6 separate regions of the Homo sapiens genome follow, and all the other regions are linked to region 6. The links come from fine-mapping of genetic effects on gene expression. A gene starts in region 6. Each other region holds a variant in brackets. All regions are shown on one strand. Distances are from middle to middle.

Region 1 (5,426 bases), 710 kb after region 6:
CTAATTTTTGTGTTTTTAGTAGAGATGGGATTTCAATATGTTGGCCAGGCTGGTCTTGAACTCCTGACCTCAGGTGATCCACCCACCTCGGCCTCCCAAAATGCTGGGAGTACAGGAGTGAGCCACCACGCACAACCTCTTCTTCAGCCTTTAATATCATCTAACTTTGAAAACATTAGCAATTAAAATATTATTTTATTTTATTTTATTTATTTATTTATTTTTGAGATGGAGTCTCGCTCTTGTTGCCCAGGCTGGAGTGCAATGGCGCCATCTTGACTCACCGCAACCTCCGCCTCCCAGGTTCAAGTGATTCTCCTGCCTCAGACCCCCGAGTAGTTGGGATTACAGGCATGCACCACCACACCCGGCTAATTTTGTATTTTTAGTAGTGACGAGGTTTCTCCATGTTGGTCAGGCTGGTCTCGAACTCCTGACCTCAGGTGATCTGCCCACCTCAGTCTCCCAAAGTGCTGGTATTACAGGCGTGAGCCACTGCACCCAGCCAAAATACAATGTGCATTTCTCTGATCCTTGGAGGAGGTTGGGCAGCTTTGCCTACATTTGTGATCTTTTTCTTCCCCCTGTGGATTGCCATATTCTGCAGTCTTAAGTATTTGGCTCTGTGGTTAATCTGGTTAGCCATTGTCACAGTGTTACACTGTAAACTGCTAATAGTTGTGTGATAATGGCAAGCTTCTTCCCCCAGACAAATTTTAGGGTCAATGTTACTAGACTGGCTTGACCACCAAAGTGTCCTTGGAGAATGGTTATAGAATTATAGGAACTCATGTCTGGAAAGAACAGAATTTTAGCTGTCATTTAGTCCTACCCAACCATCTGATGTGTAAACCCTGTCTTCAAAATCTTAGCCAAACATTCAACTAATGCTTCAACTGTCAGCCTCCTGAGACAGCCCACTCCATCTGTGGATAATTCTGTTGATCATAACAGTCTTGCTTGTATTAAACCAGATCTTGTTTCCTTGTAGTTTCTACCCTCTGCCTTGAGCCTCAGAGAACAAATCTGCCTCCTCGTCCACAAAACAGCCTTTCTGATATGTAGTGACAGTTTCCATAATAATCGAAGTCATCTTTTCTTCATGTTAAGCATGCTGGTTCCCATAAGTTATCCTTATATGATGAGATTCTGAGGGGGTTTTCGGTCACTTTGTGATCACATTCTGTTGAATACTTACTAGTTTATCCCTTTTTAAAAAATGCATCACTGAGTTCAGTGTCTTAGAGTAAGCTGAATAATAATAATAATAATAATGGAAGCTAGCCTTTATTGAGTATCAAGTAGTGTGCCAAGCACTTTACTTGTATTAATTAATTTAATCCTTACAACATGACTAGGAATGAGGCATTTGAATCCCCATTTGGACAATAAGGAAATTGAGGCACATGGAAATTAGGTAATTTACCTGTGACTGCACTGAGTGGAGTGGAACTAGAATTTCTCCTATTACGGTTATCATATTTCAGTGTATATGTCCCTAAGATTATATGATTTTTAACTCTAATTGATTTATATTAACTGTCAACTCAAACCCCCAAGTCTTATTTGAATGTATTACTGGTAAGCCACCACTTCCCATCTTGTACATTTGAGTTCTGAAGCCAAGTCCAAGTCCTGGAAAACTGCACTTGACCTCACTGAATCTATTATAGTTTGTAGCCCACAGTGCTTTTCAAGACATCTTGCTCATCCCATTTCTCTCCCCTGATATAGTTAGCTGGCTCTCTTCTGGTAGTGCTTGACTTCACACTTCACACTGTCATCTATAAACTATATACTACATGTTTTCAGCTTAGCTATAAGTGGATGAGTTGCTTAATTTATTTTACTTTCCTTTTGTGTTTGCATGCAGAAAGTAGCTTCCCAGAATAAAGAGCAGTGAGCATTTTCCCACAGTTGTATGGTGGTTATCTACTCAATTGTCCCTTCCTGCTCAAAGGATCAAAAGCATTTACCAATTTGTTATACGCTTCATGTAACAGTTGTTTGTGTTGCTTTCAATTTTTTTTTTCATCAGAGATATGCTTGAAAATGATACTGTGCACAGGACTTGTCAACTTAGTTTCTGCCTTTCTAGTTAAGAAAAATGTATGTTTTAGTTTATTAACTATAAAATAAAATGCTCCTTCTTCTCTTCCTAGGCTTAAATGG[A/T]ATAATTAGTTAAAAAAATCAAGAAACTATCTTATACACATTTCCACTATATTTTTCTACTTTGAATCCGAAAGTAAACTGAGTGGTATAGTGAAAAGATCAAGGGATGGGGCTTGGTGAGTTCATGGGCAGGAGACCTGGTTTCCACTACTAGTTTTCTCATTATCTGGCAGTATGAATTGCCAGAAGTTTTTTCTCTTCTCTATGCTGTAAAATCTGTAAAACGAGGGGACTGGAATAAAATGAGGTAAGACACTTCATTACTTAAAAATTACCTTGAATTCAATATAAATGTTATATAGCTTGTTCTCTTCCAAAATATTAAAATGGCTTTGTATGGGTGCTTTGTAAACCTCTCCCCAAGCTTTATTTAAAAAATATTTCTGGATATTTGTCTAGAAGAAACATTGCCTATTAAAACTTAGAGGACAAAACATTCTGAGCATTACTTAGTGCTGGGTCATATAAAAATAGCAATAACATTTGGCTCATTTTAGATTTTTTTTTTTTTTTTGAGGTGGAGTCTCCCCTTATCATCCAGGCTGGAGTGCAATGGCACGATCTCGGCTCACTGCAACCTCCACCTCCAGGGTTCAAGCAATTCTCCTGCCTCAGCCTCTTGAGAAACTGGGATTACAGGCACATGCCACCACACCCAACTGATTTTTTGTATCTTTAGTAGAGACGGGGTTTCACCATGTTGGCCAGACAGATCTCAAACTCCTGACCTCGTGATCCACCCGCCTCAGTCTCCCTAAGTGTTGGGATTACAAGCGTGAGCCACCACACCTGGTCTTTAGATTTTTTTTATAGCCTAAATTCTTATATGGATGGCTCTAGGCAAATCAGAGAGGTACTTTCACATTTTTGGCATTTAAATGGGAGTCAGAGGCCCCCAACCCTGTGCTTCTACCCCATAATCTATCCTCTGAAGGATGAGCCCCCAGGAATGCTGGGAGCCTCTCAAAATTCATTCACACACCTGCACAATCAGCCACCAATTTATTAAAAAACAAGTTTCTGTGAAAATGCTCATTTGCTTTCTGTGTCTGAAAGAAAAAACATCACATGAAAAACATCTGGGAAATATCTTCAAACTTATTTGCAAATATATTTGTGGAGATTTTTAAAAGACAGGCTGAATTGTTTCCTTTTTTAAAGGCAACGTAGATTTAAAAATAATTTTGTAGTAGCTTATGGGTATAAACGAAGATATCAGTGAAGATAACATTTATTTATATGCATTTTTAAATGCTATTTTCCTGCTTGTTTTCGCCTTGTGCTTTATTGTTTATTTATATTTTCAATATGTTATACTGAGGGGAAAATATAATGTTTTTCTTTGCACTAAGTCTATGGGTACATTTATCATTTAAAATATAATAACTTTAAAATAAAAAATTAGAGAACTTTAAAATATATATATGGATTTTTGCTTTGTTTTTGTTTTTTTTTAATTGTCCTCAATAATATGTTTGCAAAAGAATATAACTGGCCGGGCGCAGTAGCTCATGCCTGTAATCCCAGCACTTTTAGAGGCCAAAGCAGGCAGATTGCATGAGCTCAGGGGTTCAAGGCCAGCCTGGGCAACAGCCCATCTCTATCAAAAATACAAAAATTTGCTGGGCATTTTGGTGCGCATCTGTATGCAGTTCCAGCTACTCAGGAGTCTGAGGTGGGAGGATGGCTTGAGCCTGGAAGGTGGCGGTGGCAGTGAGCCCAGATCATGCCACTGCACTCCAGCCTGGGTGACAGTGAGACCCTATCTTAAAAAAAAAAAAAAAAGAAATAGAATACAATCAATGCCAGCAATATACATCATGGCAGAAGTGAAATAATTTGTATTTATTTGTCCCCATGATTTCTGGAAAAAAAACTTTTTAAGGAGATAATGAAATCATAAAACTTAACAATACTTAACATGTTAATCTAAGTATGTTTTTTTTTGTTTTTTTTTTTTTGAGGAGTCTCGCACTGTCTGCTGGGCTGGAGTGCAATGGCACAATGTCAGATCACTGCAACCTCCGCCTCCTGGGTTGAAGCGATTCTTCTGCCTCAGCCTCACGAGTAGCTGGGATTACAGGTGCCTGCCACTACATCCAGCTAATTTTTTTGTATTTTTTAGTAGAGATGGGGTTTCACTATGTTGGCCAGGTTGGTCTCAAACTCCTGACCTCGTGATCTGCTCACCTCAGCCTCCCAAAGTGCTGGGATTACAGGCGTGAGCCACCACGCCCAGCCTAACATAAGTATCTTAACTCTGTTTTCATCAGAATATTAATTACTTTATTAAGGACTGGAGAAAAAGAAACTACTGCTAACATTGAACATAAGCTTAGTAGAAATGTATACATATAGATTATATAATATATACACACATGATACATATACACATTACATAGGAATAGATTAATATGAAGTTAAATAAACAGATTTTACCTGTTCAACTACCTAGTAGATTGGGAACTCAGAAGAAAACTGATGGGGAAAGGGTAGAACCTAGGCCTATCAAAGAGTAAATTAAGGCACTAATACCAATAATTACATACAATAATTATGATATGCATGGAACATATCTAATTACATCACTTTCCCACTCACCATCTCTTCTTTTTTTTTTTTTTTTTTTTTTTTTTTTTGAGACGGAGTCTCGCTCTGTCGCCCAGGCCGGACTGCGGACTGCAGTGGCGCAATCTCAGCTCACTGCAAGCTCCGCTTCCCGGGTTCACGCCATTCTCCTGCCTCAGCCTCCCGAGTAGCTGGGACTACAGGCGCCCGCCACCGCGCCCGGCTAATTTTTTGTATTTTTAGTAGAGACGGGGTTTCACCTTGTTAGCCAGGATGGTCTCGATCTCCTGACCTCATGATCCACCCGCCTCGGCCTCCCAAAGTGCTGGGATTACAGGCGTGAGCCACCGCGCCCGGCCACCATCTCTTCTTAAGACAAATATTCACATTCTCTTCTAGTCCTAAGATACTGGATTAATCTGTAATCTTCAAACTCTTCTTTGGTATTTCCTTATCTATAACTTCCAAGCTTCCAAGTTTCTCCGTTTCTCTAGTTGGCTGCAATAGCTCCGTGCTCAGATTCACTCGGCACTCCTTGCCTGAACATCTTTTTGCCTTAAGAGCTAATATTTTATTTATTTTCACTTTTAGTATAAGTTAGTCCACAATCAGTCACACAATCACTCAACAAGTGTTTCATGAGAGATTCCCACTTGTGAAGTACTCTTCTAGGCACTGGGTGATTT
Region 2 (5,426 bases), 380 kb after region 6:
CCGAGTAGCTGGGATTACAGGTGCCCACTCCACGCCCAGCTAATTTTTGCATTTTTACTGGAGATGAGGTTTCACCATGTTGGCCAGGCTGGTCTCAAACTTTTGACCTCAGGTGATCCACCCGCCTTGGCCTCCCAAAGTGCTGGGATTATAGGCGTGAGCCACCACGCCCAGCCAGGCATACCATTTTCAAACTGCAGAAAATCAAAGATAAGAAAAGAGTCTTGAAACAAGCCATCAGAAACAAAAGACACCTATATAGGATCAAAGACAAGAATTACACTTGACTTCTCAGAAACCAGGCAAGCAAGAAAAAGGTGGAGTGAAATATTTAAAGTTTTGGTAGAAAAACAACTTCACCAACCTAGAATTTTGAATCCTATAAAATTATCCTTCACAAGTGAAGGAGAAATAGAGACTTTCTTGAATAAACAAAAATTGAGAGAATTTATTGCCAGAAGACTAGCTTTGAAAGAAATGTTAAAAGTTATTCAGAGAGAAGGAAAATAATATAGATTAGACACTTGGATCTACATAAAGAAATTAGAGAAAGAATAAGTAAACTAAAAGCTTTTATTTTTCTTATTTGTAATTGATGTAACATATAATGGTTTGTTTAAAAAAGAATAGCAACAATGTATTCAATATATATACTTCTGTATTTATATGCTTATATATAAGTAAAATAAATGATAGCAATGTTGCAAAGGACAGGATGGAGGAATTCAGATTATTTTGTTATTTTAAATTACTTTCATTACCCATGAAGTGGTATAGTGTTATTTGAAAGTGGACCTGGATTGGTTTTAAACATATATTGCAACTTTAGGGAAACCACCAAGAAAAGATTAAGAAGGAATATGACTGATATATTAATAAAGGAGAGAAAATGGAATCATATGAATATTTAGTTATAACTACAAAAGGCAGAAAAAGTGTGGGAGACAAAAATAGAAACAGAACATGGGCAACAAATAGAAAACAGTTGCAAATGTGTTCAATGTTACCCACCTGTATCAATAATCACTTAAACATCAATGGTCTAAATATCGCAATTAAAAGACAGATATTGTCATAGTGTATCAAAAAACAAAACCCAGCCATATGCTTTTTACAAGAAACTCACATTAAATATAAAGACACTTGCAGGTTAAAAGTAAACAGATATAGAAAGATATGCCAGCCAGGTGCGGTGGCTCATGCCTGTAATCCCAGCACTTTGGGAGGCCGAGGCGGGCAGATCACCTGAGGTCAGGAGTTTGAGACCAGTCTGGCCAACATGGTGAAACCCTGTCTCTACTAAAAATACAAAAAACATTAGCTGTGCATGGTGGCGGGCACCTGTAATCCCATCTACTCGGGAGGCTGAGGCAGGAGAATCACTTGAACCCAGGAGGCGGAGGTTGCAGTGAGCTGAGAATGCGCCATTGCACTCCAGCCTGGGCGACAAGAGTGAAACTCTATCTCAAAAAATAATAATAATAAAAAAAATAAAACTAAAAATAAAGATATGCCATGCTACCACTAATCAAAAGAAAGTGGGACTATCTCTATTAATTTCAGACAGAGCAGACCACCAGGCAAGGTAAGGTATCATGGATAAATTGAATAATTACATAATGATAACGGAGTCAGTCATCCAAGAAGACATAACAATCTGCTATGGTCTGAACGTTTGTGTCCCTACCCCACCCTCCCCCTAACACACAATTTAAATGTTGTAATCCTAATCCCCAAAAAGAGGGTATTAGGAAGTGTGGCCTTTGATGGGTGATTAGGTCAGGAGGACTGAGGCTTCATCAATGGGATTAGCAGCCTTATAAGAAGACCCAATGAGATTCCTTCCCCCTTCCACCACTTGAGGACACAGCTGAAAGTCAGGGGCCAACAAACCAGGAAGAGGCCCTCTCCGGACACTGAATTTATCAGCACCTTGATCTTGGACTTCCCAGTCTCCAGGAGTATGAAATTAATGCCTGCTTATAAACCATCCAATGTATGCTTTTGTTATAGCAGCCTGAATGGACAAAGAGACAATCCTTAATGTGTATGCACCTACAAACAGAGCATCAGAATGCATGATTCAACAACTGATAAAGTTACAAGGAGAAACAGATAAATCCAATGTTATAGTCAGAGATATTTTTTCTTTTCTTTAAAATAGGAATAATACTAGTGCCTACTCAACAGAATTTGTGTGAAGATTCAATGAGTTAATGGGTGTAAGGGCCTTAGAATAATACCTGACACATTCTAAAAGCCTGAAAAATGCCGGCCATTATTGTTACTATTACTATTATTATTATAGTCTACACGGAACCATTATTATTTTTTATGTTTGACACACAAATCACTATACTAATCTGTCACCTTTGCTTTTCTTCTGTAAATCTAGTAAAAAGGGAGGAAGAAAGAGGAGTACAGAGATGTTATAAAACACAGATCACAGAGAGAAGCCATTTATTTTTCCACCGCTACCCTTGACATGACTGCTGCCGAACTGAAGGAAGAAAATTGCGGCGGGAAGAGATCAATAAAAATTATTCTTTTCCACCTTCTTTCCCTGCTGTTGGAATTCAACCTTTAGGCTAACATTATGGCAAGATTTAGGATGCAGAGGAAATGGGATTCTTCCCTAGTACCTCACTCATGTTGCCCTTTGTCCAGTCTTGGCAGAAATATTGCAGAGTAGTAGTTGAGGTGCCACAGTAATTCATGAGGAAATTAGAAAGGTGATATGGTTTGGCTCTGTGTTGCCACCCAAATCCCATGACAAACTGTAATTCACAGAGTTGGAGGAGGGGCCAGGTAGAAGGTGATTTAATCATGGGAGCCAACTTCCTTTTTGCTGTC[C/T]TTGTGATAGTGAGTGAGTTCTCACAGGATCTGGTTGTTGTAAAAGTGTGTAGCACCTCCCCCTGTCTCTTATTTTCCTGGCGGCCATGTGAAGACACGCCTCCTTCCTCTTCACCTTCTGCCATGATTGTAAGTTTCCTGAGGCCTCGCCAGCTATGCCTCGTGTACCGCTTGTAGAACTGTGCCTGAAACCCCTTTTCATTATACACTACCCAGTCTCAGGTATGTTGTTATACTAGCGCAAGAACTAACTAATACAGAGGGTAAACATAAATTTGAAGTAAGAAAGATGAAAAAAAGAGGGGTGCAATATATATTTGTTTATAATAAAGACAGTATCTTGTTACTTTTAAGGGAAACAAAATTCACACCTGGAGGAAGCTTTTGTTATTGTTATTGTCGTTGTTGTTGTTCTCTAATTTTTGTGCATGAAGGTTCATTTTGTAGACAGCAGTGCCCTTGTGATAAGAAGTAGGGAGGAGCTAACACTTACTGAGCACCTACTATGGGAAAGATGCCTAAGCTTAGCCATCCCCTGAACAAACCAGCAAGGTAAATTTTGTCCATTTCATAGATGATAAAACTGAAGTGCATCCAGGTTTAAGTCAATTGCTGAAATATGCATAGTAAGTAAATTGCGTATCTGGGATTCAAATCCAAACCTGTCTGATTTCCAAACTCTGATGTTCCCATACTACCTACATTTAAAAAAAATGTGTGCCCCAAAGAGAAATATAGAGTTCCCCTAGAAAGCCAGTGGGTGATATAAATTGCACTTCTTCATACACGATCAGCCATAGAATATGAGTTCTGGTCCCTGGTGCCTGGAGACTTCTGTACTTCTCAGAGCTCATCTCCATTCAGAACTCTTCAGGAATGTCAGGTTGACTCCTCTGAGACCATACAGATTGATACAGCAAAAAGAACATGGAGTTGGAATCAGACAGTCCTGAATTCCAGTCATTGTTTCATAATTTCCTTGTCCACAACTTTGGGCAAGTTTCTTGGGCTCTCCGAGCTTCAATCCCCTCCTTATAATTCTCTTTTCTAACTTCCTTCTTCCTAATCTCATGTGGGATACATAAGAGGCATCTTCTTCTTATCTTTGGTCAGTTCTCTTGTGTGAGTTAAATATTGCCACAATAATTATGTGTAACAATCCTCCAAATTCTATGGCTTATAGTTGTCTATTATTTTCATCAATCTGTTAATTGGCTGATGTCTCTGCTTCAGTGGTACAGCAGCTGGGGATATTTATCTCCAGATCTGTTTTTCTTGGGCTCAGATTGAAAAGTGAACAGCTATTGCAGGGATATTCTTCTCATGGTCATTGCAGAGGCATAGGAGGGCAAGCAGAAACATGTGAATCCTCTTAAGTTATTGAATCAGAACTGGCATACTGTTATTTATGCCCTATTCTATTGACCAATGCAATTCACAAGGCCAAGCCCCAAGTTAAGGGAGACAATGTACATTTTCTGCTCATCAATGGCGTGGCCAAAGTGTAGTTGCAGGGGAGGGTGAAGAATTGAGGTTGACAAGTCAATCCCTCTTAGAAACTACTACCACTAAGTTTCTAAGTAGTTTCCTTTATTGTTCTCAGGCTTACTATTCTATTTTACCAGGAACAGAATTCTTCAATTTCCTGACTTCTTACATAAAGCTTTCTGTATCCACATTTACCAACGATTTTCTCTTTTCTTTCAGTCCCGGATATGCCATTCAACCTGTCTTTTGAATTGTATTCCCTTCTTGCTGCTCTGGAAATTATCAATTATCTTCACTGCCTCCCATATACTCAACTTACACTTCTCTGTTGTCCTCATCTTTTGAAATACTGTAGTTCCCGCCCCCTCCACTTAAACAAAATATAATAAAAAACAAACCAAAAAGTTTATTTGACCCAACACCTTGCCTTTAGCAACTCCCCTACACCTCTCTTTCTTTCCTCAGTCAAGATTCTAGTTCTGGCATTTTCCTAAATTTCATTTATTCCTCAATATATTTAAATCTGGCTTCTGCTCCCCTCAATTTGCTGATAGTGTTCTCCAAAATATCACTGTAGATCATTCTTTCCTGAAATGCCCTTATTGTGCTTTACATGATTTTACACTTTTCCTGTGCTCTTCTTACATCATTGTATGTTGTTCCTCAATTTCTTTCACTGAATTCTTTCCCATGTTTGATTTTTAAAATGTTGTTTCCTGGGGTCTTCATCTTATTCATTACATTTTCTACAAATTTTCTAAGCTTTTCCCTTGGTTTTAATTATGTGTAAATGCCTCCAAAGCCTTTATCTCTTCTTTTCTTTTCTTTCTTTCTTTTTTTTTTTTTTTTTTGAGATGGAGTCTCGTTCTGTTGCCCAGGCTAGAGCGCAATGGCGCAATCTCGGCTCACCACAACCTCTCCCTCCCAGGTTCAAGCGATTCTCCTGCCTCAGCCTCCCAAGTAGCTGGGACTATAGGTGTGCGCCACCATGCCCAGCTAATTTTTGTATTTTTAGTAGAGACGAGTTTTCACTATGTTGACCACCCTGGTCTTGAACTCCTCACCTTATGTTCCGCCCGCCTCTG
Region 3 (5,426 bases), 720 kb after region 6:
ATTCACTGCAACCTCTGCCTCCTAGATTCAAGCGATTCTCTTGCCCCAGCCTCCCGAGTAGCTGGGATTACAGGCGTGCACCACCATGCCTGGCTAATTTTTGTATTTTTAGTAGGGATGGGGTTTCACCATGTTGGCTAGGCTGGTCTCGAAATGCTGACCTCAAGTGATCCACTGGCCTTGGCCTCCCAAAGTGATGGGATTACAGGTGTGAGCCAATACACCCGGCCGAGACCAATCTTTTATGATGTAGAAATTTTAGTGCTATGAATTTACCTCCAAATATTTTTAAATCTGGGTCCCACAAATTTTGGTAGTTTGTCTTTTCATTCTCATTTAGTTCAAAATATTTTCTAATTGTATCTTATTCTTTCCTTGATCCATATCCTCTCCAGAACTATGCTATTTAGTATTAAATTACTTGGGAACTTCTTAGACATTTTTTTCTGATATTAATTCCTAGTTCAATTTCATTGTGGTCAGAGAATGTACTTTGTATGGCTTCAATCATTTTACATTTATTCGACTTGTTTAATGATCCTCTATCTGGTTTATCTTGGTAAATGTTCTGTGTGTGCTTGAAAACACTGTGTATTCTACTGTTGTTGTGTCATGTGTTCTACCAAAGTCAGTTAAGTCAAGTTGTTTGATATTGTTTTTCAAGTCTGTATATTTTACTGATTTTTTGTCTGCATCTTTTATCATTTATTAAAAGAAGAATGTTGGCATATTTGACTATAATTGTGAATTTGCCCATTTCTCCTTTAAGTTTTGCTATTTTATTCAATGTTGACTTTGAAGCAGTGTTATTTTGGATACCTAAATATTAAATATTTAAATTCTTATATTTCCTTGGTCAATTCTCCCTTTATCAGTTTACAGTGTCCCTCATTTTGCATGTGATATTCTTGCCTCTGAAAGCTACCGGATCATATTATACAGGTATTCTAGCTTTGTTTTGAAATAATGTTTCCTCTTTGCATTTAATGTGGAAATTACTCTTCTAATGTTTTCAATGTTACAGGTAGCTTTAATTTGCTAAGGTGGCCATAATAAAATACCACAAACTGAGTGGCTTATACATCATGTATTTGCTCACAGCTCTGGAGGCTGTAAGTTTATTATCAAGGTGTTGACAGGGTCGGTTTCTTCGGAGGCCTCTCAGAATCTACCATGTCTCTTGCCTAGCTAAATCAGTGATTTTCTGGCGGACACTGGCATTTCTTGGCTTTCAGAAGCATCATTCCAATCTCTGCCTTTGTTTTTATGTGACATTCTCACTGGGTCTATGTCCAAATTTCCCCTTTTTATTAAAAGGCCAGTAGTATTGGATTAAGTCTTGCCCTAATTACTTCATCTTAGCTCATTACTTCTACAAGAACCTTGTATTAAAATAATGTGACATTCTACAGCACTGGGGGTTGAAACTTCAACATATTAATTTGGGGGAACAAAATTCAACCTGTAGTGTTGGTATTTTCTTCTCAGTGTCTAATCTGCTATATATCCCATTCAGTTTATTTTTCATTTCAGACCTGTAATTTATATCCATAGAAGTTTGATTTTGGTATGTTTTATATCTTTCATATGTTTACTTAACATGTTCAACCTTTCCTCTTATTTATTGAACATATATAATATAGTTAGAATACCTGTAGCTTTTTTTTTTTTTTTTTTTGAGATGGAGTCTTGCTTTGTTGCCGAGGCTGGAGTGCAGTGGCACTACCTTGGCTCACTGAAACCCCCTCCTGGGTTCAAGCGATTCTCCTGCCTCAGCCTCTCGAGTAGCTGGGACTACAGGCGCCTGCCACCACGCCCGGCTAATGTTTTGTGTTTTTAGTAGGGACGGGGTTTCACCGTGTTAGCCCGGATGGTCTCGATCTCCTGACCTCGTGATCTGCCCGCCTCAGCCTCCCAAAGTGCTGGGATTACAGGCATGAGCCACTGCACCCAGCCGTCTGTAGCCGTTTTAATGTTCTTGTCTACTCATTCTATAGGTGCCATTTTCTGGTCTCTTTCTATTGAATGGCTTTTCTGCTCTTATTTTCTTTCCTTCATGCGTGATTGGTAACTTTTTATTTGATGTCAGACAATGTGGATTTTACCTTTTTGGTGGTGTTTTTCTTCTCCTAATATTATTTTCACACTTAAATCTGAGATGCTTTAAATTTACTTGGAAAAAAAAAACATTGATTCTTTCAAGGCTTGTTTGTAAACTTCATTAGACAGAACCAGACTAGCTATTAATCTAGGACTATTTTTCTTCCACTACTGTGGCGATACCCTCTGACGAACCTACCTAATATCATGTGAAATACAAGGCTTTTCACTCTGACTTGTGGGAAAAAGAAATGTTTGAGCTCTAAGAATTGTTTTTTTCTGCTGTTTACAGATAGTTGCTTCTCCAGCTTCAGTTAGTTTCCTCACATTCATGCACTGATTCATGCTCAACTAAAGCTGAGAAGGACCTTCAACAAATCGCTGCAGTTATCTTATTTTTTGTGCAGCTTTCTTTTCTCTTGTATTCTTCCCTGAAAATTGTAGCTGTATTTCCCTTTTTGGACTCCTAGCTCTGTCTTCTCAACTTAGGGAGGCCACTGGATTCCATTTAGGTTCTCCGTTTCTTTTTATTTTATTTATTTACTTATTTGTTTATTTTGAGATGGAGTCTTGCTCTGTCGCCCAGGCTGGAGTGCAGTGGCCAGATCTCAGCTCACTGCAACCTCCGTCTCCAGGGTTCAAGCAATTCTCCTGCCTCAGCCTCCTGAGTAGCTGGGACTACAGGCGTGTGCCCCCACACCTGGCTAATTTTTGGATTTTTAGGGGAGACGG[G/A]GTTTCACCGTGTTAGCCAGGATTGTCTCGCTCTCCTGACCTTGTGATCCCCCCACCTTGGCCTCCCAAAATGCTATGGGATTACAGGTGTGAGCCACCGCGGCCGGCCTGAGTTCTCCCTTTCTATGATGTAGCCTGAAGTCTCCTTTCAGACAGTAAGCCAGGACAATCGTAAGGGTTCACTTTGTTTTCCCTCTGTAAGGAATTATTTTCTCACACTACCTAATTTCTAACGCTTAAAAAACATTTATATATATATATATGTATATAGTCCAGTGTTTTTAGTTGTTTCTGCCAGGAAGATAACTCCATTACAAGTTACCCCATCTCAGCTAGACAGTTCCTAAGAGAATACATTATTGGCCGGGCATGGTGGCTCATGCCTGTAATCCCAGCACTTTGGGAGGCCAAGGCAGGTGGATCGCCTGAGGTCAGGAGTTCGAGACCAGCCTGATCAACATGGAGAAACCCCGTCTCTACTAAAAATACAAAATTAGCTGGGCGTGGTGACACATGCCCGTAATCCCAGCTACTCAGGAGGCTGAGGGAGGAGAATCACTTGAACTCGGGAGGCAGAGGTTGTGGTGAGCTGAGATCACGCCATTGCACTCCAGCCTGGGCAACAAGAGTGAAACTCCGTCTCGAAAAAAAAAAAAAAGAATATATTATTATATAACTTTTTATTATGAAAATAATATTTTCTTATAAAAATTTCAAGCAGTGCAGATGTATATACAGAAAAACTTGCATTTCTACCATTCTCTCCACCCTCTATTCTCCCAAAATTCAACTGAATTACTGGTCCTCAAAGGAAACAGCTTGCAATTGGTATGCTCACTTACAGATAATTTTATATTCATTTAAATATATATACAAAGATTCATAATATAGTCATATACATATATGCAAATATTAAAAATACATAATTATATATTTTTTAAACAGGGTCTTGCTCTGTCGCCCAGGCTGCAGTGCAGTGGCATATTCTCAGCTCTCTGCAGCCTCAACCTCCCAGGCTCAAGCAATTCTCCCACCTCAGCCTCCTGAGTAGCTGGGACTACAGGCATGAGTCACCACACCTGGCTCTTTTTTTTTTTTTTTTTTTTTTTTTTTTTGTAGAGAAGAGTTCTCACTGTGTTGCCCTGGCTGGTCTCGAATTCCTGGACTCAGGCAATCCTCCTGCCTCAGCCTCCCAAAACGTTGGGATTGCAGGCATGAGCTGCTGCGTTTGGCCTACATAAATATTTTGACATAAATGAGATATTAAGTACTTTTGTAAATTAATTTTCTTGTCTAATTCTGTATCTTTGTTTTTCCTCTATATTTGCCATACATATCTATGTCAATATTTTAATTGTCTGCATATAACTTCATAGTATGGATACATCATTTTTAAATGTAGGTATTTCTCTATTGATGTACAAATGTTTTTCACCAGTTTTTCTGTTTAACAAATGTTACAATGAACATTTTTGAATCATATGTTTTCGTGCACATGTGTAGCATTTCTAAAAGGAAAATTCTTAAAAATTTAATGAGCATTTTAAAGTTTGCTAGAAATTGCCAAAATATCCTGCAAAGTACTTGTACTTTGTTCTAACAGTATTAGGATTTCCTATTCCCTCATGATTTTTGTTGTCAATCCAATGGAAGAAAATTGCTTCTTTGTTTTAATTTATATTTACTTTACGAATAGTAAAGTTGAATATCTTTTGTTATCTATTTGTAGTTATTAATCTGTGAATTGTTGCCATATTTTTCTATTGGGTTGTTTGATTTTTTATTTATAGAAAAAATTTGTATAGTCATTTGTTTGTTATACATATCACAAGTATTTTCTCCTAATCTCTTCTTTATATTTTAACTTTGTATAAGAAATAATTTGCCGTATAGAAATAGTGCTGGAAAACATGTCTTTTGAGAAAGAACATACCTTGTTCTATTTTTTTCCGCTTTTGAAAATTCCATCTCATCCACCAGCTGCAGGACAAATCACTGAACTAAATGTTTAACTGGTTTTGAGAAAGAGAAAAACAGCTTCTGACATTCACAAGCTATGCCCAGTTGTTGCTAGGAGCTGGCTTGGCACTCACAGCTAGGCCTTGGTATTACTCTATCAGGAACATCAGCATTAAATGAGGCCGCTGTGTGACCATGACGGATGAAGGCGAAAACAAGACCGCTCTGCAATCATGTCTGAACACAGACAGAACATGGACATTGTGCAAGTCACAAGAATGACCAGTTATCTCACTATTCTGAATAATATAAGTTGCTGGGTTTTTTTCTTTTACCAATTACAAGTCTACCCTTGCTTTAGACTGCCCTCACAATAGATAAGGTGTATTAAGATACCTGATCATCATATTACCCCGACTTCCCGAGAGTATTCAACCCAGAGAAAAATTCTGCTTCCTCAAAATCTCCCGCAAATCACCTAATACAAATCCAAACACTATAACAAATCCTTTTATTATCTTCCTACTGAGATGCCCCCATAATTGATAAAAATAGTTCTCTATGATGTATATTCTCTCCTACTGTAATGAGTAATAAACCCGATTTGTTCAACTATAGTGTGTTCCTGATAGTCT
Region 4 (5,426 bases), 480 kb after region 6:
TTTCATGAAATTAAGAAAAATAAATCAACTTCAAATATATTTTCTGTCTTCTCTAAGTGCATTTAATATGATTACACACATGTTAAACCTGCTTTATATTGTCCTGCAGATTTCTAAGATTCTGATTTTTTAAGTTCTTTTTCTTTCTCAAGTGCAGTTTGGAGAGTCATCTATTGTTGCACCTTCGTCTTTTATTCTGCAGTAACTAAACTGCTTTTAAACCCATCTTCTAAATATTTTGTTTCAGATACTGTATTCTTCATCTCTACAACTTCTTTTTGTTTCCAACTTAAACCTCCCATTTACCTCTTCATAGTGTGCATGACTTCCTTCAAATATTTGAACATATATATAATAATTATTTAAAATTGTTTTTTAATACAGTAATTTTTGTCATTTCTGAACATTTCCATTGGCTGATTTCTCTCCTGGCTATGTATTTCTTCTTTTACTGCTTTGCATGGTGAAGAATATTTGATTGAATACTGAACATTTTATATTGTTAAATATCAGAATCCCACTGTGTATCTTTAAGAAATGTTGAACTTAGTTTTGTCAGACAGTTAAATAACTTTCACATCAATTTTGTTAGGATGGATCTAAAGTATCCTTTACTTTAAGTCTAGTTTCACCTCTACTAAAATGTGATTGTCCAGAAGTTGCCTGAATGCTCCAGTTTTTCAACAAAGTATCTCCACTTTGACTGGTTAGAATTTGAATGACTTCCAGCCCTGTTGTATGCTGTAGGAATAGTTCAGTTTACAGCTCTCCATAAGTGCTTTACCCAGCATCATGACGTTTCAGCTTACACATGCACATTTTAGTATTCAGCAACATTCTCAGCAAAACTTCTGTGAAGATTTCTCAAATTCATTCTCTCTGTAGCTCAACAATCTTGTCTCCAGAACCATTTCCCACAAATTCCATATGCATCTGCTTCTTCAAACTTTAACATCTGTATTTCCAACTGATAAAGATTGTTATGTTTTGCTTCTTGTCTTCCATTCTGTGCCACAGTCTGAAAGTACCTGTGATATGATTTGGCTGTGTCCCCACCCAATTCTCATCTTGAATTGTAACTCCCAGAATTCCCATATGTCGTGGGAGGAACTTGGCGGGAGATGATTAAATTATGGGGATGGGTCTTTCCTGCGCTGTTCTCATGATAGTGAATGAGTCTCACAAAATCTGATGGTTTTAAAAACAGGAGTTTCCCTGCACAAGCTCTCTTTGTGCTTGCCACCATCCACATAAGATGTGAGTGAGTTGCTCCTCCTTGCCTTCCACCATGATTGTGAGGCCTCCCCAGCCATGTGGAACTGTATGTCCATTAAATAAATCTCTTGTAAATTGCCCAGTCTCAGGTATGTATTTATCAGCAGTATGAAAATGGACGAATACAGTAAATTGGTACCAAAAGAGTGGGACATTGCTGAAAAGATACCTGAAAACATGGAAGTGACTTTGGAGCCAGGTAACAGGCAGAGGCTGGAACAGTTTGTAGGGCTCAGAAGACAGGAAAATGTGGGAAAGTTTGCAACTCCCTGGAGACTTGTTGAATGGCTTTAACCAAAATGTTGATAATGATATGGACAATGAAATCCAGGCTGAGGTGATCTCAGATGGAGATGAGGAACTTGTTGGGAACTGGAGCAAAGGTGACTCTTGTTATGCTTTAGCAAAAAGACTAGTGGCATTTTGCCCCTGCCCTAGTGATTTGTGGAACTTTGAACTTGAGAGAGACAATTCAGGGTATCCGGCAGATGAAATTTCTAAGCAGCAAAGCATTCAAGAGGTGACTTGGGTGCTGTTAAAGGCATTCAGTTTTAAAAGGGAAACAGAGCATAAAACTTTGGAAAATTTGCAGCCTGACAATGCAATAGAAAAGAAAATCCCATTTCCTAAGAAGAAATTCAAGCAGGCTACAGAAATTTGCATAAGTAACAAGGAGGCAAATGGTAATCCCCAAAACAATGGGGAAAATGTCTCCAGGGCATGTCAGGACCTTTGCCACAACTTCTCCCATCACAGACCCAGAGGTATAGGAGGAAGAAGTCATTTTGTGGGCCTGGCCCAGGGTCCCTCTCCCTTGTGCAGTCTAGGGATTTGGTGGCCTGTGTCCCAGCTGCTCCAGCCGTGACTAAAAGGGGCCAAGGTACAGCTCAGGATGTTTCTTCAGAGAGTGGAAGTCCCAAACCTTGACAGCTTCCATGTGGTGTTGAGCCTGCAGGTGCACAGAAGTCAATAATTGAGGTTTGGAAACTTCCGCCAAGATTTCAGAGGATATATGGAAACATCGGGATGCCCAGGGAGAAGTTTGCTGCAGGGGCGGGGTCCTCATAGAGAACCTCTGCTAGGGTAGTGCAGAAGACAAATGTAGAGTTGGAGCCCTCACACAGAATCCCTACTCAGGCACTGCCTAGTGGAGCTGTGAGAAGAGGGTCACCGTCCTCCAGACCCCAGAATGGTAGGTCCACTGACAGCTTGCACCATGTGCCTGGAAAAGCCACAGAGACTCAGCACCAGCCCGTGAAAGAAGCCAGGAGGGGGGATATACCCTGCAAAGCCACAGGGGCAGATCTGCCAAAGGCTGTGGAAGCCCACTTTTTGCATCAGCGCATCCTGAATGTGAGATATGGAGTCAAAGGAAATGATTTTGAAGCTTTAAAATTTGACGGCCCTCCTGGATTTCAGACTTGCATGTGGCCTCTAGCCCCTTTGTTTTGGCCAATTTCTCCCATTTGGAATGGCTGTATTTACCCAATGCCTGTACCCCCATTGTATCTAGGAAGTAACTAACTTGCTTTTGATTTTACAGGCTCACAGGCAGAAATAACTTGCCTTGTTTCAGATGAGACTTTAGACTGTGGACTTTTGAGTTAATGCTGAAACGAGTTAAGACTTTGGGGGACTGTTGAGAAGGCATGATTGGTTTTGAAATGTTAGGACATGAGATTTGGGAGTGGCCAAGGG[C/T]AGAATGATACGGTTTGGCTGTGTCCCCACCCAAATCTCATCTTGAATTGTAACTCCCAGAATTCCCATCTGTCATGGGAGGAACCAAGTGAGAGATTATTAAATTATGGGGCTGGGTCTTTCCTCCGCTGTTCTTGTGATAGTAAATGAGTCTCACAAGATCTGATGGTTTTAAAAACAGGAGTTTCCCTGCACAAGCTCTCTTTTTGCCTGCCGCCATCCACATAAGATGTGACTTGCTCCTCCTTGCCTTCTGCCATGATTGTGAGGCCTCCTTAGCCATGTGGAACTGTAAGTCCATTAAATCTCTTTCTTTTGTAAATTTCCCAGTCTCCAGTATGTCTTTATCAGCAGCATGAAAATGGACTAATACAACCTCCGAACAGAATGTTGAGGCAATTGTATACCTCACCACGTTTATTTATCTTATGCCCTGGGTCAAAGTCCTCTATTGTCTATTATCTAATATCTGAAACAGCTGTTTGATATTTCATCTTTTTCTTTCAGTTTTCTAGTTGTTTATGGCTAGGTGGCAAATCTGAAATCAGTCATTTCACCAGGGCTGGAAGGTGAAGTCTAATACTGACATTTTGAACGATTTTTATATTTCTTTTATTCTTATTTTTTTCTGATTATAAAAATAAATATGCTTACACAGGAAAAGTACAGATGAATAAATAAAAGAAATTTAAATCACCCAAAGATAACTAAAATATAATTTTAATCCTTGTCTAATTTATTTCTATGTCCGAACCTAGGGTAGTTCGATTATATGCAGAGCTGTTTTATTCATTGTTAATCCTGCAATCAGCTACCCAGGTGCCTACCAGAGACACCTGTTTTTACAAATGTGAAGGAATTTTTCTGAAGGAAGTGTCTCCTTGTGGTCACTATTGCCATTACAAATGAGGGAGGGATTGTGGGAGAGAACTGTTGTCAGGGGCAACCTGTCCTTTCTGTTTCCGTGTTTTTTGAAAGCTCTTCTATTCCCTGTCATTTCTCTTGTATGGAATTGCCCACTGATTTTTATCTTAGAATCTGGGGATGTAGTGTATTCAATAATAGATTGTAAAAGAAGTATATCCTCTGTCACCTCTGTATTTCTGCACAATTAAGAAGTAGAATAGAATTATTCAATAATATATATCAAATTGCATGAAGGCATTATGCTCCCTTAAAAGAGAAAACTGTTGTTTCTTCAGATAATTTGTATCAGTGGTTCCTAAATATGGGTACAGATACTATCCACTAAAGAAGTAAATTTCTGTTCCCTACCCTCATCCCTTGCCTGAAAGATTCTGAGCAAGATACAAACATTTCTCAAATTTTCAAGTTAGATTACATTCAATTGAAATTAATTTTAAGACTTGAAGATCAAGGTCACATTTAGTGTAATTTTCAAAGAAAGTTATCAAACCGAATAGGACGACAATGGCAATATTTATACTGTCATAGGTGACTACATAAACCAGATCAACACTTCAAGAGGCAAGTTTAACAGTGGGGTTTTATATAAATTTGGTGAAGATTTTGAAGCTGCCAGTATACAATGTGAGGTCTTAAAGTATATACACCAGACAGCAAATAATATGCTTTATCTGAAATTAATTATGAATAAATGCTCAGGATCAAATGTAAATTTTTCCCACAACACCTAATGTACAGAATTGTTGTGTTTCGTTTTTTGAAATCAAATCAAATGTGGCTCCAAGACCTCCACTTGTCAAATATGGTGAATAGTTTATTGAATCTCTATTTTTATTCATGTCTTTCTCCTCATTTGGTTGCACCAGGATTGAATAGCGCAGGGCAGTAGATTAGAGGCCTTTCTGGTAATCATTCCATAGTCACTGCTGAGGATGTTGCCTAAATTTAAATGCCTAAACTTAAATGCTCTTAAAGCTATGTGGTGCTACTGGTGCTATAGTTCCTCTAAGTCAGAATGATCTGAAGGACCCTTAGCATTTAACATGGTCTTTGGTGTCATCCACACAGGTATACTCATTTCAATACACCAATACCTCTAGGATGCTTCATGGGATTTGGGCACAAGTCTCAACCACTTTGCCAACTCACCTTTCTCCTTTCCACTCCTAAAAGATTCACCTTTCAGGCCGGGCACGGTGGGCTCATGCCTGTAATCCCAGAACTTTGGGAGGCCGAGGCGGGCAGATCACCAGAGATTGGGAGTTCAAGACCAGCCTGACCAACATGGAGAAACACTGTCTCTACTAACAATACAAAATTAGCCAGGCGTGGTGGCGCATGCCTGTAATCCCAGCTATTCGGGAGGCTGAGGCAGGAGAATCGCTTGAACCCAGGAGGCGGAGGTTGCAGTGAGCCGAGATGGTGCCATTGCACTCCAGCCTGAGCAACAAGAGTAAAATTCTGTCTCAAAAACAAAACAAAACAAAGATTCACCTTTCCCTCTCAGTCTCCTGTTAAGCCATGTC
Region 5 (5,426 bases), 440 kb after region 6:
GTTCATACATGCACAAAAGTATATGTAACATATAAAGAATAAAAGGTAGTAAATCCCTAGGTACTCACCATCCATGTTAAACGGAGCCATTATCCTAAATTATATTTTCAAACGTTTTACCCTATGTATATGACTTGTGCACCTTATTATACCATCAAATTTTGCATTATCTTGAAATCTGGTATATGCTTGCTTACCTTTTTTTCAGTATCATATTTAGCAGCAGACATTCCATGAATGAGATATGAACCTTTGCTTTATTAAGCCACTGAGATTTTAAGATTGTCTATTCCTACAGCATAACCTAGCATATCCTGAGTGATAAATATAGCCACTTTCGTTTTCTTAAAAGATGATGTTAAGAGCATATAAGAAAAAGAGCATAGGTAATAGGCCAAGGTAAATGAATTTAAGGCTGCAATTGCCTGAATCTTTATACTTGATAATTATAGTGACGTAATTCAACCAAGTTTAGCATTCAATCTCATATAAATACATGGTGTCAGATTTACAAATGAAACTTTTTTGACTAATGGAAGGGTATACCTGTAGCAACTCAGGAAAAAGAGATTCTAAAATTGAACTCAGACTGAATCAAACCACTGAAGAAAAATAGCTTTTAACACCATCAGCTTGCATCCCTTTGAGGCATTTGGGTGGGATGGCTACCTTGTTGTGCAGGCACCATCTAATGTTCTTTTTTGTTTTTGTTGGGTATGCTGAACTTCAGATCTAAACCATTTTGGAGGGCTTATCATAATACTGAGTCTCCTGGCTTCACAAGTCATTTCCTTTATAATATGAGGACTCCAGGGAAATCTGGCAGCCATTTCACTTTGTTTCTAACACCGAAGTAGAACACATTGAAGCCATATGGTGGCATCTGGTTTGTGAAAAACAACAAAAAATCAAAACAAAAAAACCCTAAGTTCATAAACATATTTTAAAATAAATTTGGATGGGGGCTTCAGAAACTTTTGCCACAATAGTAATATTGAAAGGGGAACTCTCTTGCTCCAGATTTCTTGGAAATAATTTTAATTCAAAAATTTTTTTGTTTGCTTTTTTGTTTTTAATACTAGGACGTGCCACTAGAGAAAGAAAATATGGAATATTCAACAGCTTAACAAGTTACTGTTTGCCAAGGCTTAAGGAGGGATGGGGCAGGACAAAAATGGGTGTGGCTATAAAAGGACTATATGAAGGATTTTTGTGGTGATGAAAGTGTTTTCTTACATGACTATATCAATGTGAATATCCCGGTTGTGATATTGTATTACGATTCGTCAAGATATTACCATTTTGAAAACTGGAGTATATGGGACCTCCCTGCATTATTTCTTACAATTGCATGTAAATCTACAATTATCTCAAAATAAAAAATTTAATTAAAAAAGACAAGAAATAGAAAGAAAGGAAAATATGTATAAACATGTATCTGATAAGGTATTTGTATCTAGAATGTACAAAAACCTCTTACACCTCAATTGCAAATAAACAATCCAATCAAAACATAGGCAAAAGATTTTTTAAAATGCTTCACCATCTTATGCCACCCTCTACCTCTCCCCAACTATCTCCACCACACTATCAATCTCACTCTCTCCTAGCCGTTTCTAATCCTGCTTTAACAAGCAGTTGCTGACTTTGCATTTCTTCTTCCTCCAAAATCGCAGAGGCCCTGACTTACTCACTGCTAAAAAAAAAAAAAGCTGGTGGGGGACTCTGTATATTTTTAAATGAAGAGTGTTGTTCTTACCTAAATCAATCTGGCCTGGTATATGACAACATAAAAAAACTCAAGGATACAGCCCAAAAACTCGCCAACCAAGCAAATAATTACACTGAACCCCCTTGGACACTCTGTAATTGGATGTCCTGGGTACTCCCAATTCTTAGTCCTTTAATACCTATTTTTCTCCTTCTATTTGGACCTTGTGTCTTTCGTTTAGTTTCTCAATTCACACAAAACCACATCCAGGCCATCACCAATAATTCTATATGACAAATGCTCCTTCTAACAACCCGACAATATCACCCCTTACCCCAAAATCTTTCTTCAGTTGAATTTCTTCCACTGTAGGTTCCCACGCTGCCCCTAACCCCACTCAAAGCAGCCCTGAGAAACATCGCCCATTATCTCTCCATACCACCCCCCAAAATTTTCGCTGCCCCAACACTTCACCACTATTTTGCTTTATTTTTCTTATTAATATAAGAAGACAGGAATGTCAGGCCTCCGAGCCCAAGCTAAGCCATCATATCCCCCGTGATCTGCACATATACATACAGATGGCCTGGAACAACTGAAGATCCACAGAAGTGAAAATAGCCTTAACTGATGACATTCCACCATCGTGATTTGTTTCTGCCCCACCCTAACTGATCAATGTACTTCATAATCTCCCCCACCCTTAAGAAGGTTCTTTGTAATCCTCCCCACCCTTGAGATTATATGGTACTTCTATTCTTACTTTTTTGAGGAATGTCCATGAATTTTTCCAGAAAAGCTGTCCAAATTTGTATCACACCCTTGATGTGACGGATTGCATTAATTGATTTTTGAAACTTAAACCAGCCTTGCATAGCTGAAATAAATCTCAGTTGTAATATAGTTCTTTTTATACATTGTTGAGTTTCATTTGGTAGTATTTTGTTGAAGATTTCTGCAACTATGTTTATGGGAGATGTTATAGTTGACCTTTCTTGTAATATTTTTGTCTGGTTTTGTTACTAAGGCATAAACAGGATCTTTATGCTGAAAACCACCAAATGCAGCTGGGACATATCGAGGAAAATTGAAATAAATCATGTGGCTTTGGATTGGAAGACTCAACATAATAAAAACAGTCAATCTTTTTCAAACTTTATCTGTATGATTAATGCAATTTCTACAAAAACACAACAGGATTAATCGTTTATATATATAATACAAGCTTATTTTAAAATGTATAAGAAAAGGCAG[A/G]TAAACTAGATAAACTAAAACAATTTTAAATATGGAAAATAATGTTGGAGGAACCACACTACCTAATTTTAAAACTTTCTATATAGCTACCGTTATCAGTATTAAGACTGTGGAATTGGTAGAGGGATAGGCATGTAGGTCAATGGAATAGAAAACAGAGTTCATCAATACACCTACGAAGTACTACTGACTGACAGCTGACAAACTTGCAAAGGCAATTTGAAGGAGATAGGATACTCTTTTCAACAAATATATTGCAACAATTGGACAATCATAGACATACAACGAACATTGACTTAAATCTCACATCTTACTCAAAAATGAACCTAAAATAGATGAATCATGGATCTAAATGTAAAATGACAAATGATAAAATCTTTAAAAGAAAAATGTAAGATTTTTGTTAGTATCTGAGGGTTTCATGAAAAGCTTAGAAATGACATTGAAAACAAGATCCATAAAAGAAAAGTGTTAATATGTCCCTCATCAAAATTTAAAAAGCTTCAATCTGTGAAAAACCCTGTTAAGAGAATGTAAAGACAGGCATACTGTATACCCAAAAAAGGACTGGTATCTAGAGTACATAAAGAACTCTCAAAACTCAGCGGTTAAAAAATAGGCAATCTAATTAGAAAATGGGCAAAAGAGTAGAATTTACACTTCACCAAAGGGGATATGTGAATGGCAAACAGACACATGAAGAAATGTTTAAAATTGTTTGCCATTAGTGAAATGCAAATTAAAACCACATTTAAATAGCATTACACGCTAATTAAAATGGATACAATAAAAAATACCTATAACATCAAGCACTTAAAAGTAAGCTGAGGAACTGGACCTCTCATACATTGTTGATGGAAATGCAAAATTTTACAGTTATTCGGAAAAGAGTTTTGCAGTTTCTTTTAAAGTTGAACACGTACTTACTGTACATCCTGGCAATTGTACTCCCAGGAGTGCAATTTAACCTGGAATAATGAAGTCCTATTAAATTGGTTTCTTTTGGCCGCTATAACAAATTATCACAAACTCAGTGGCTTAAAACAACAGAAATATATTCTCTCACAGTTCTGCAGAGGATAATAGGAATGTAAAATCAATTTCACTGGGTTGAAATCAAAGTGTTGGTAGAGCTTCACTTCCACCAGAAGTTCCATTGGAGAATCTGTTCTTCGATTCTTCCGGCTTTTGGTGGTTGCTGGCATTACTTGGTTTTTAGCAACATCACTCCACTATCCGCCTCCATGGTCACACTACCTACTCCTCTTCTTTCTGGGGCAATTTTTACTCTGCTTCCCTCTTATAAGGATGCTTGTGATTAGACCTAGGGCCTACCAGGATAATTCAGGATAATCTTCCCATCTCGAGGTCTTGAACTTAATCACATCTGCAAAGTATGTTTTGCCATATAAGGTAACATATTTAGTGGTTCTGGGGATTAAAACATAGATACCTTCGGGGACTGTTATTCAGCCTGCCACATTTATGTTCACACAAACTCTTGAATATGAAAGTTCATAGCAGTTTTATTCACAATATACCAAAGTGGGAACAATCCAAATGCCCTTCAATGGATAACAATAAATAAACTGTGGTATATTAATACAATCAAATACTACTCGGTAATAAAAGAAATTAAACTACTGATTCCACAATAGTTGGCTAGTTGGCATTAATATCAAACCATTATGCCAAGTGGAAGAAGCCAATCTCAAAATATATGATATTGTCTGATTCCATTTCTGTAAGGTTCTTGGAAAGGCAAGACGACGTGACAGAGACTACATCGGTGGTTTTTCTAGGTGTTAGAGGGGTGGGGAAGGTGTAACTCTAAAGTGATGGTGCCAAGAAGTATTGGGAGCGATGGAACTGTTTTCTCTCCTGATTGTGGTAATTTTTACATGTATCTATACATGTGCTAAAATTCACAGAACTAAGTATCAAAAATAAGTCAATTTGTTAATTTGAACAAATTTGGGCAGAAAGAATTTCTTCACAGAAACAGTGTGTACAAAGGACTAGAGGTTAAAGAGACTGTCACATTTATGTGACTTAGTAATGCTTTAATTTTGACTGACAGAGGCATAGAGCACAGGGACGTGGATGCAAAGAGAGGGAAAATGCTGGGATTTCAGTGGCTTTTTAATAATCATGGGATCAAGAGTGCAGAACATTGATACTAAAATTGTGTCTGACAAATCTAATGACTGACGATAATAAATTAATATTCTCATCTCCCATGCTGATTTCCTTGAATAACTGAAAGCTGGTGTCTGTAATAGGACAACCTGTACCACGCCGCCACCACCACTACCACTGCAAACATCTGCAAGGAGACTGGTACCCCTGTGCCCACCAGCACCCCAACTCATTCAATAAATGTGCACCTCACTGTGCTGCCACTGCTGCTGGCACATGTGAATGAGCATGGATACCACCACCATAGCCTGAAAAAGTGCTT
Region 6 (5,426 bases):
TTAAAATGGCTTTGATGGTCTTGCAAAGTACAGCTTTATTTGAGTGGTAGAGACAGGAGTCAGAGAGCACCAGGTTGAAGAAAGAGTGACTGGTAAGTAAGAAGAGACAGACAAGAAGCTTCACTCTTGTGAGGCTTAAGTGGAAAGAAAAGAAGAAAGAAGAAAAGAAGTGAGAAGGAAAAGCAGAGTGAAGTTATTATCACATTATTTTTTACAATTCACCTTTAAAGTGGTTCCTGATGCTTCCTCTTACTTAAATTTTTATTTAATATTAAACATATTTATAAACTATAGTTAATTAGCCAGTAGAAAGGCAGATGTTGAAAATACAGAAAAAAAAAGAAGCAGTGGAGCAAGGTCCATTCTCAATCCCCTTGAATAGAACAATTTATTCATTAACTATTTACTGAGCATTTTTGTGTTTGTTTTGTTTTTGTTCTTGTGGGGTTTTTTTTTTTGATGTGAAAAACACACAAAAGCATAACTACCCACTGACCAATTTTGCAGGAGGACTCATGCTAATGCTAATACATCAGGCTGAATTTTAGACAGAATGGTTGAAGAAAATAAATGCTGAACAGTCCACTTTAATATGGCAATTTAGTGAGGAGAGGCACTCTCTCCCATTTAGAGACACAAGAAAATATTGCTTCTGTGAAAATCTTCTTAACATGGAGATGTTAGTAATGATGCCAAATTTATGAAATGTTCTTAAAGAGGTCTGAACAAAGTTTGCTACATAGAACAAATTCAAAATAATATGTAATTATATGTTTTTCCAATATCATATACTTTTGAAAAATGCAAAATCTTGTGCTAAATGTAACTTTCACTTTCTTAAATCACTTTTATGTCAATATTCTTATGAAAATATTTCTTAAAATTAAATGATATTTTATGACCTGATATTCTCTACTTGTCATTTATTTAGATTGCAAGCTAAAAACTAATTAGAAAGACTATACTTTTGCTGTTAACTTTCTCAGAGGTAAAATATCACTTTTCTTTAGTGGTTTGTGATGCTATGAATGAATACTTTCCAGGTTGGGTATTTCCTGGCTGTTAAATATCAGTTAAGTTTTGGCTGACTTCACCTCCATCTATCAACCTCCCTGCCAATCATTTAACAGCTATAGAATAGGTCTCCTCACACAAATCCTTCAGGAAGAATTTCCATTGTGCACATTCTGACCAGAAGAAAAAATGCAGCAAATTTTTGGAAAGTGAATCATTTTTAGAGTTCTGAGCAAATTATGTTAAACTCAGGGTTTCTCACTGTCAGCACCATCACATTTTAGGCAGTATAATTCTTTCTTGTGTGAGGTCGTCCTTTGTCCAATAAGACGCTTAGAAGCATCTCTGTCTCTGCTTATTAAATACCAGTAGCATTCCCTGCTGCCACCAATTATGACAACCAACAATATTTCTAGATATTGGCAAGTATCCCCTAAGTGGCAAAATCTCTTCCAGTTAAGAACCACTGAGTTAAGAACAGTAAGTAATGATCCAGGGAAAATGGATATAAAGATATTAAAAAGCTAGTAAAGCATTTGACATATTAGAAATGCATATAAACAATTCATATTTATAAAATAAAATCTACTGAAGATATAATGAATAAACACTTGTTTTGGTGAGCAAGCTTGGGATTGCAGCTGTGGGCCTGGAAGTGGTAGGAGCTGCAAAGCCTGCCCAGGATTAGCTGTAGCCAGAGCCGGCAGCCAAGACAATAGCAAAGATCAATTTGACCTCAAGATATAATCAAATATGACAGCAGAGTGAATGAAGCTTTTATTTTGCTCCGTTCTTCTCCATAATCCTTCTTATGCCCATAATCATTATAATTACATAAAATATTTAAAAACCTTTAAAAATTATTTCTTGGAAACCATGAATATGGCAGACTAGAGGCATTTTGTACTCACTTTCTCCATTAAAAATAACCAAACGGTGAGTCGATAATCACACTTTGAATATATAATTCAAAGGAAATCACTGGAATCCATTAGAAAAGTGATAGGCAATACTTAAAGCAGAGATGGAGAGGGAATCAAGGCAGCCTGCTCATCCAGGATCAGCTGTGAGCTGAGAGACTCCAAATACAGAGAAAGGATAGGTGAGAGAGCCTCAGTAGTTTACATTCTCACTATAGACTCCTATAATCCCAGCCACAGGAGATCCCTTCAACCATCATGGGCCCCGAAACTAACATAGAAAGCTGCCAGGAGATTGTATGATGGCACTGCTTCAGGGAGAAAGCTCCCGCTGGGTCCCTCACACTTCTTGAGACTTAAGCAGCTACAACAAAGTACCATTTTAGAGCCCTGCCCTCAACAGACTGAGCACTGTCCTGGAGCCCAGTAGCCCAGGGCTGAGGTGCAAGAGAAGCACGAACTGCTGCCCCAGGGACATAGGCATCAGTGACTACAGACTACAGCATCTGGTGCAGAGGTGGGACGAAGGCGTGGGCTGCTGCTTTTAGGACTGAGGCACAAATGAGGCACCACTGCAGAGCCTCACCCCCGATGAACTACATACTGTCCTGGAGCCCAGTGGCATTGAGGCCTAGGTGCAAACTAAATGTCTGATGTTTCCCTGGAGATTCAGACATGAGCGACCACAGGCTACTGCAACCAAGGGAAAGACATGAACATCAAGGCTGGGCAAGATAGCATCTTAGAGCCTCACCCCCAACAGACTGCACACTGTCTTGGAGCCAAGCAACACTGAGGCTGAGATGCAAAAGAAGAGCTGGCTGTTAACCTGGGGCTTAGACATGAGCATTCATGGGCTACCACACCTGGGGCTGAGGTGGGAGCACCACTGGGGATAAGGCATATGTGGCACATGTGTTTTTCACCCACTGGCCTAGACTGCCATCACTGAAGGTGGCATCCAACACCCAGTGGCAGGGCAGCAGCATGGCCACTGCCACCCTGTCTTTACCAAAGAGATAGAGACCATAAAAAAGGAACGAACAGAAATTCTGGAGCCAAAGAATGCAGTGAATAAACTAAAAAATACACATGAAAGCTTCAACAATATACTCAATCATAACTGACTTATGTTAAGATCACATTTTGCTTGAAGACAGTTTTTTTTGAAATAACGCTGTCAGACAAAAATAAAGAAAAAAAGAAAATAATAAAATAAACCTTTGGAATCTATCTAACAACATAAAGTGACCAAATATAAAAATCACTGATAGCCCAGAAGGCAAAGAGAGAAAACATGTTTTCAAAGACCTATTTATTGAAATAATAGATGACACTTCCTAAGTCGAGCAAGACACTTAGACATTGAGATACAGGAGGCCCATCAATTCCTAAACAGATACAATGTGAAAAGGTCTCTTCCATAGCACATTACAGACAAAATATTTAAAGTTTTTTTTTTCTTTTTTTCCAAGATGGCAGATTGGAAGCATTATAAGCATACTTATCCCACTTGGTAAGACAAAATGGCATGTAGAGATTCATGCTGTAAAATTTATTCGAAGAAACAATGTAAGAACTTAACAGAAAAACTGAAAGAAACCACAGACCCTTTGAATGAAGTGGCAGGCAACAGACTACATCATAAAACAGATGGAAAACCATTAGTCCCCAGAGCATGAGAGAGGGATAGATTGCTGTCATGACATATACTCCCACAGGCGAGCCAGGCAATACAAGTCATGAGGGAGGACTTCAAACCTACTCAGCTCTAGAGGTGATTCAGTGAAAAGTAAGGAATATATAAGAAGGAGCAGCATCGGGACATGCTTTGTGTGCAGACCCAGATTCCAGCAAGAATGGAGGGAAGCCATTCCTGATCCCACCTCACGGGACGTTGCAGAAGTCTAACTCAGGCTGCAGTCACAGTTTGAGAGAAGAGCCCAACTGGGATTTGTGATATAATCCTTAGTAAGGACAAAGCTGATTGGCCAGAACCGAGGGGCAAGTGAGAAGTGTGCTACGGCAACAAGGCACATGAGCTGCATGGCCCTGCTTCACAGGTGGACTGGAAAGGATGCAGCCTGAAAGATATGGTTTCTGTGTCCATAGGGAAAGCTTATGGCCTGGGATGGTTTTAAATTCTGAGCACGGGCCACTTGAAACCCAGTTAGCTGCTGCTGCTAGCAGAACACTGTGGGTATGAAAACTGACTTGCCAAGTGTGTGGGAGCTGAGTGGGGCTTATTACAACCTGCTGCCTCCCACTTTTCAGGCAGATTTTTTGTGCAGCAGAGGCAGCTGTGTTCCTGCCTGGAACATTACCCCACCAGCCAGGGAACTGCCCTCGGATCCCCACTGGGGCCACTGCTTGCACCTGCACATGGGGAGCCAGAGTGCAGACTTGCCTGACTCAGTTTAATAACTTCTGAGGCACAATGAAATCATCCCAATGCCTCCATGTTCAATTTCAGGCACTAACAAGTCCCTGAGGTATTAAATGCATTGCTTTTCTGCGGTCTTGCCACCTTCAGGAGCTTACTAAGAAAATGAAGAAGAGCCACGATCACTCCTCTCAATTAGCCTCTTCCCTTGGCTGAGAAATGTGTTTCCGGTCTTGAGAACACAGAAGTTTTGCATTTGCTCATGAGAGATCTGAAACCTTCTGACACTGCCCTGCATCTTTTCCATTCCCTCTAAATAGAGAAGACTCTTCTCCTGTCTCCTACCTTCTGCTCTGACATCCATTCACTAACACCTAGGCACAAAAAGCCTAGTTCACCCAATGGCAGAAACGGCTAAGGTGGGCCTCTTCCAAGCTATGAACAACATTTCAAAGCTTAAGTCCCTACCCTCTTCCAACACAATGTCCTTTTCATTCCTCTAGCTCAGTAGTGCTCAGATTGGGGGTGATTTTGCACCCCATCCCAAGAAGACATTTTGCAGTCTGGAAATATTTTTGGTTGTCACAACTGGGATGGCTCTTGGTGCTATCGGCATCTATTGAATAGAAACTAGGAATGCTGCTAATCATTCTAAATTCAGCAAGATGACACCCCCTCAAAAAAGCCCACAGAACTATCTGTCTCAAAATGTCAATAGTAATAAAGGTGAAAAACCCTGTAGCTCATTCCTTAATAGGCCACCCAAAGAGATTTTGGATGTTTTCATTTATAAAATTATGCATATATTTTGGCAAATCAACAGCTGTTTCTCACCACTGATGGTTAGACAAGGGAAAGAATAAGGAGACTGATATTATAATGAGCTCATTCTATGCCAGGTACAGTGCTCAATACTTCAGATTTATATTATCACATTTAATCTGTTAAAAATGTCCCAACATGTAGTAACAAGAGTTATTTTTATTTTACAAAGTTAAAAGAAAACTGAATTTTGAACAAATTGAAAGATCGATTCAGATTACAGCATCTGTAAATGGCAGAGCAGAAACTTACTATTAATGATCGCATGGCTTCAGAGCTGATGCCAG

Alleles and levels. Alleles are on the strand shown, and positions count from the first base shown. SD is a standard deviation of normalised expression in the study named. Not every link is listed here.
In carriers of allele C in region 2, the expression in caudate of the gene that starts at base 2,923 in region 6 tends to be higher than with T alone (moderate effect, 0.52 SD a copy in GTEx).
For the expression in coronary artery of the gene that starts at base 2,923 in region 6, T is the low allele of the variant in region 4 and C is the other (moderate effect, 0.65 SD a copy in GTEx).
In carriers of allele G in region 5, the expression in hippocampus of the gene that starts at base 2,923 in region 6 tends to be lower than with A alone (moderate effect, 0.62 SD a copy in GTEx).

Evidence for each region. PIP is the estimated chance that this variant, and not a neighbour inherited with it, causes the effect.
Region 1: its variant is the best candidate, but not a certain one, in a credible set for the expression of MAGEC3 in aorta (GTEx, PIP 0.88).
Region 2: its variant is the best candidate, but not a certain one, in a credible set for the expression of MAGEC3 in caudate (GTEx, PIP 0.81).
Region 3: its variant is the best candidate, but not a certain one, in a credible set for the expression of MAGEC3 in cerebellar hemisphere (GTEx, PIP 0.79).
Region 4: its variant is the best candidate, but not a certain one, in a credible set for the expression of MAGEC3 in coronary artery (GTEx, PIP 0.78).
Region 5: its variant is the best candidate, but not a certain one, in a credible set for the expression of MAGEC3 in hippocampus (GTEx, PIP 0.87).

Annotation. Positions count from the first base shown.
Region 1 is chrX:141,122,825-141,128,250 of GRCh38, reverse strand. No RefSeq gene overlaps it. Among named protein-coding and RNA genes, the nearest start is that of LDOC1, 52 kb to the left of the region's middle. The variant A/T (reference allele first, on the strand shown) is at 2,173.
Region 2 is chrX:141,460,008-141,465,433 of GRCh38, reverse strand. No RefSeq gene overlaps it. Among named protein-coding and RNA genes, the nearest start is that of SPANXA2-OT1, 40 kb to the left of the region's middle. The variant C/T (reference allele first, on the strand shown) is at 2,854.
Region 3 is chrX:141,110,939-141,116,364 of GRCh38, reverse strand. No RefSeq gene overlaps it. Among named protein-coding and RNA genes, the nearest start is that of LDOC1, 63 kb to the left of the region's middle. The variant G/A (reference allele first, on the strand shown) is at 2,833.
Region 4 is chrX:141,359,041-141,364,466 of GRCh38, reverse strand. No RefSeq gene overlaps it. Among named protein-coding and RNA genes, the nearest start is that of SPANXC, 120 kb to the right of the region's middle. The variant C/T (reference allele first, on the strand shown) is at 2,974.
Region 5 is chrX:141,392,147-141,397,572 of GRCh38, reverse strand. No RefSeq gene overlaps it. Among named protein-coding and RNA genes, the nearest start is that of SPANXA2-OT1, 110 kb to the left of the region's middle. The variant A/G (reference allele first, on the strand shown) is at 2,966.
Region 6 is chrX:141,835,813-141,841,238 of GRCh38, reverse strand. It overlaps MAGEC3 (MAGE family member C3), which reads right to left and starts at 2,923. Exons shown (of 8, transcript NM_138702.1): 1 at 2,801-2,923. The coding sequence starts at 2,923.